Linked DNA regions of Homo sapiens: region 1 is linked to region 2. Evidence: fine-mapped expression QTL. Tissue or cell type: whole blood. Region 2 holds a variant in brackets; the other region holds the start of a gene. All regions are shown on one strand. Distances are between the middles of the regions.

Region 1 (2,500 bases), 390 kb after region 2:
TCTCAAGCAACCAGTTTCAAAGGAAGCCTGCAACACTTTTCCCCCCTCCTAGCAGACACACATACACACGTGTATGTAAAACTACGAATCTTTCCATCATCTTAAAAATTAGTAATAAATAGAAGCCACCCTCCTTCAGAGAGCAGAACTAAAACAGGATAGTAAGAATTCTATTCTGCTGCAAGTGACTTTGGGTTTCATAATTTTCTAATCACATACAGCTGAGAACTAGAGATTGGGAGCACAAAGAGGAAATCTTCCCCCAATGAGAAAATGATACTTTAATAATAAAGTCCTCCCCCCAGCACCCCGAAATCCACAAACATTCAAGAAATTTACAGTTTCAGTCCTTGACTTCCTTCCCTTCCAGTTTCAGCCAATAATGTAGTCACATGAAATAGTTTAACCTCAAACAAGTAGAACAAGAGCATGAATAAGAGGCCAAGAGAGAGCAGGGGTCAGAAGGCACGCAGGAACGGTCACCTGGCCCGGACAGGACCAAAGAAGTGCCCTGCCCTCGCCCGACTCCCCTCGACTTCGGCTTCGACCCCAGCCTTTTCTTCCTGCCTCCCCCCGGGCGAGTGACTGCTTTCACGGCCGACCCTCTCTGACCACCAGGACGAGGGGCCAAAAAAGAAAGCACACGACCCGGCGCGGGCAAGTTGGACACTTACCTTCCCCTAAAGCGCTACACCATCAATAGTGAGGTGTTCGCGGCCCAGCTCCGGGGAAAGTGGCGGGGATGGGGCGGGAGGCCGCGCGGAGGCTGCGGGGCCGCGGGGCGCAGGGCCGAGAGGGGCGGCCCGCGGGGAGGCGACGCGGAGGGGCTGAGGGGGCTTCCCTGCCGTGACCTTTCCTGCGACTTGAACCTAGGCTCCCTCCTCCTCGGTCGGGCAGATCTTTCAGAAGCAGGAGCCCAGGATCATGTCTGGTTTTGTTTTCCGAGGGCGAGGGGGCTCCCTGAGGATGATGGTGATTTTTTTTTTTTTTTAATCCTCAACTAGGAGAGAAAATGAGGCAGAGACAATGTGGGGAGCGAGAGAGGGGAAAAGGACGGGGGAGGAGGCGGGGACCGAGGCCCAGCGGGGCGAGCGTCTCGGGGTGTGCGGGAGGCTGAGGAGGCTCCGGAGCGCGGAGGGTTGCTCGCGAGCGTCTGTGGGAACAGCGGCACCTCCGCGATGGTGGCGGAGCCGCGGCGGAGCTGCTGCACCGACCCGCCGCCCACTCCCCGCTCGGGCCCGGCCCACCTCGCAGTATCGCGCCCCTCCATTGGTACAGCGCGGTGTGACGCGGCCGGGGGCCCGGCCAATGGGAGGCGGAGGAGGCGGGATCTCTTTTTCCTTTTTTTTTTTTTTTTTTTTTTTTTTTTAATCTTTTTAATAAAATGAGCAGAGAAGAAGGCGGAGAGAGGCCGAGCCTTGACAACGCCGCGGCCCGGGGCTCGAGGGCTCGCGCTGCAGGCGGCGGCCAGAGGCGGTGGGCTGGGCTCCCGCCGCGGGCGCGTCTTTGTGAGAGTGCGAGGCCGGCCCTCCTCCGCCGCCCGCCGCGCTCCAGTACCGCCCCCCGCGCCCCCCGGGCTGGGCCGGGCTGGCGGCGCGGGCAGGTCCCGGGTGGGGTGGGGGGAAGTCCGGTTGATCTTGCTGTTACCCGGGTCTTAATTGGCCTTTTCAGTCATTAGGACGCGGATCCATGTTGCTGCGGGCTACAGAGTGGGTGTAAACCATTCTCATATGGACTCTTTCGAAATTCTGATGAGCGGCTTGTAATATTTTTCAAATAGTGTACATGACAAAAGATGAATTACAGAAAGAAAAATAAAAGTGATAAGTCGCACTGCTTATTTGAAAAGAATAAAAAGTGTCATGAAGGCATAAAGGAGAGACTGTACAGGTACAGAAGGGATTTTAGAAAGAGCAGTGTACAACTCTATAAGGTACGTGTGAAAAAAAATCTAAAAAGAGGAAAAGACCAAACATCACCTCTTTTTCTTTGAAGAATGAAGTATTGTGTCCCACTTCCCGAAAGCCTGATAATCACAGGGTCTATCATGCTGTAAAGGGAGTAGGGGCAGGCCAAATGATCATATTCTAGTTCATATAATTTATGGGATTGAGGGGTTTGGAAATTTCAATTATGATTAGCAGTTTTTGAAATGCACATCATGTTTATTGAGTTCTTTCACAGAGCCTGGCACGAATCCAGGGTGAATCATCAACCTATTGTTGGTTTGTTAATATTCTGTAAATGCTTATTGGTGTCCTTATACCATACACTCTTCCCGAAGGAGTTAAGGTCCGTATAAAATAAGGGGTAGAAAACGTAGCACAAAATAATTCACTCATCTGTTTCAAAAGAAGTGATAATTTTCTCCTTGGAAAATCTATTCAGATTATAATTTCCACATTGAATTATTCATTTTTTTTTTTTTTCTGAGAGGGAGTTTCACTCTTGTTGCCCAGGCTGGAGTGCAATGGCGCGATCTCGGCTCACCGCCACCTCC
Region 2 (2,756 bases):
GCGGCCGACCCCAGCAGCCACAGGTAAGCGCCCGGGGTCCGGGGCGGCAAGAGGCCGTCGCCTGTCACTGGGCTCCGGCTCCACAAAGCGCAGGGCGGAGGCGGCCGCGGGTGGCTCGGCGTGTGACCGCGGCGGGGCCGCGCGGCGCGGGGCCCGGGGGGCGCGGGGCTGGGGCCGCCGCTGACGGGGGAGGAGGCAGGAGCGCGGCGCGCAGAGCCCGGCGCGGCCGCGGGCGGCTGCAAAAGGCGGCCTGGATTGCCGCCGCCCTCCTGTCCGCCAGCCGGGGCCCCGCGCCCCGGCCCCGGCCCCGCCCCCGGCCCGACCCCCACCCCGAGGCCGGAGCCTCCAGGGCACCCGGCGCTGGAATCTGTGTCCTCCTTCCGGACAGGAGAACATCAAGGCGGTAAAGCACAGAAACTTCCTCCCTACCGCAGCAAGCGTGGGGAGAGGGCGCCCACAGGGCTGGGGCCCTTCCCAGGCTGCTGGGTCTCCAGCCCACGTTCCGGATGGACGAAGTCGGCTGCGCCCCGGCCGCACGCCCTCCGCCCCAACCCCGCCTCAGCTGCGAAACGGGGGGCTGGCCCCGACGCCCCCCGCGGTCCCTTCCGGCCCGCGATTGTGGGCGGCCTCTCCCTGGCGGCCCAGGCATTAGCCTGCACTTCCCCGGCCGCCGCTTCACAACTAAATCACCGCGGAAGCTTCCCAGCCAATAAATCACCTGCCCACCGGGCAGAGGGTCCCTCCCACTCCCTGTGTTTGAGACCCGCCAGGCGGATTCAGTGAAGGGCCAGACTTAGCCTTTTAAGACCAGTCTGCAACCTCCTACTCCAGTAGTGGAGGCTTTGCGTTTTTGAATTTCACCCTTGCTGAGATATGACTCATCATTGTCAATTTTCAATATAATTCATACAGTTCGAAGGGAAAATCTCTCAAGGCACAAGAAAGCAGCAAGCTCTCCTCTAGTGTGAGGAGTGACCTTTGTTACTTGACAAAAGTATCGTTTATATGATCAACAGGCATCCTACGCTGTGTGCACACAGCATATCACCGGGAGAGACGGCACGGAAAGATGGCCCTGCCCTCAAGGAGCTGCAGTCTGCCCAGGAAGGCAGACAGGTAAACAAACCAGTCCTAGGGCCTGCAAGAAAAGCAGCAGAGGAACAAAGGGTGGTGGGTG[A/G]AGCTAGGAAGAGGAAGCAACTTACTCTGCTTGCTGATGTCTTAGAGGAAGTGACAAGGAAGAGTGTGAGCCTGCCAGGTGGGCTCCAGCAGGGCTTCCAGCAGAAGTCAGCCAGGAAAAGGCACAGGGAACATTCTGGGAACTGCAAGGAGGACAGGGTGTGCAGAATGGAGTGCCAGCAGATAAGACGAAAGAGGCAGGCAAGGATCCGGTTGCAGAGAGCCCTTCAGGCCGCACGGAAGAGTTCCTAATTGTAGGCTGGCAGAAAGGCTGAAGCTGGAGCTTTCCATGAAAAGACTGGATGAGGACTGTGCCAGTGGCAGTGTGGCCTAAGTGTAGATTAGGGACAGACCAGTTAAAGAGGCTGCTGACACAGTTCAGGTATGAGATGAGGACCTCAACTACTGGCACACTCCACCTCAGTAATCAGAATTCCTGCCGCTTAATCCATTCTTCAAGTATTCAGGTATTTACTGAGCACCTAGCTGAGAGGGGTCTAGGAAGATAATAAAGGTTGCCATGGACCTTTACTGAACTGTGATTCATTTTTGCACGTAAGATAAGTATGTGTGAAGTCATTACAGAACATTCTGAGATGTCATCTGGCCAAGCATAAAGAAGTGAGGTGCAGCTCATCAGTGCAGCAAGGGACCCAAGAAGGCTAGACTGCAGTGGTCTGTAGTAGTTCAGAATGCCTTCGCCAAGGCAGTGACATCAGCGAGATCACAAGGGGTGGGCAACTATTGCAGGGGTGGGAGGTGGCTTGGTGACCGGGCCCTCCGTGAAGGTCAGAGGTGGAGAATGGGAGGTGGGTTACAGGGGACAGTCTACACAGACTTGGGGCGGGCAATCTGGAGTGAGCCAGGCTGTGGAACGCCAGGACCATGCAATCGGAACGTGGGCTTGATACCAAGTGACATCTAACAGGTCCAGTAAAAGAGGCCTACACAATAAAGGCAGCATGTGAGAAAGGCTGACTCTGGAACATCAGGGTAAGGTGGCAGAGTTGGACAAACAAATTCAGATCCTGTTTCTTCCATTTATTGTGATGCAATCCTTTGAACATCATCCATTCAACCAATAGTTACTAAGTACCTACTATATGCCAGGAGCCTCATATATATTAATTCGAAATCTTTACAACCTAAGAAGAAGTACAATTATTATCCCCATTTTACAGACAAGGAAGCTGAGGCACAGATAGGTAACTAGATCAACTCCTCAGAGACAAAGCCAGAATTCAAACTTAAGCCCCCTCAAATCCTCAGAGCCACACTCTGTAAAATGCAGGCAGGCGTCTACAGTGGTAACTATTTTCTGTTACCATTTTCTATGAGTCTGTACTTTCCTCTTCTCGGGTCCAATGTCAAATCATAAAGTCCTCAGTATTCTTCCTAAGAAGTGTCTTTCAGCCGGGCGCGGTGGCTCATGCCTGTAATCCTAGCACTTTGGGAGGCTGAGGCGGGCAGACCACAAGGCCAGGAGATCGAGACCATCCTGGCTAACACAGTGAAACCCCGTCTCTACTAAAAATACAAAAAATTAGCTGGGCATGGTGGTGGGCGCCTGTAGTCCCAGC

What was found. PIP is the estimated chance that this variant, and not a neighbour inherited with it, causes the effect.
Region 1: it holds the start of RERE, and the variant in region 2 is fine-mapped to the expression of RERE in whole blood (TOPMed, PIP above 0.99).

Annotation. Positions count from the first base shown.
Region 1 is chr1:8,816,486-8,818,985 of GRCh38, forward strand. It overlaps RERE (arginine-glutamic acid dipeptide repeats), which reads right to left and starts at 1,155. Exons shown (of 23, transcript NM_001042681.2): 1 at 675-1,155. RefSeq lists silencers at 753-812, 1,063-1,362, 1,463-1,692 and an enhancer at 1,105-1,399.
Region 2 is chr1:8,423,586-8,426,341 of GRCh38, forward strand. All of the region lies in intron 11 of RERE (arginine-glutamic acid dipeptide repeats), which reads right to left. It overlaps RERE-AS1 (RERE antisense RNA 1), which reads left to right and starts at 1,060. Exons shown (of 4, transcript NR_125999.1): 1 at 1,060-1,116. RefSeq lists silencers at 1-199, 510-649. The variant A/G (reference allele first, on the strand shown) is at 1,178.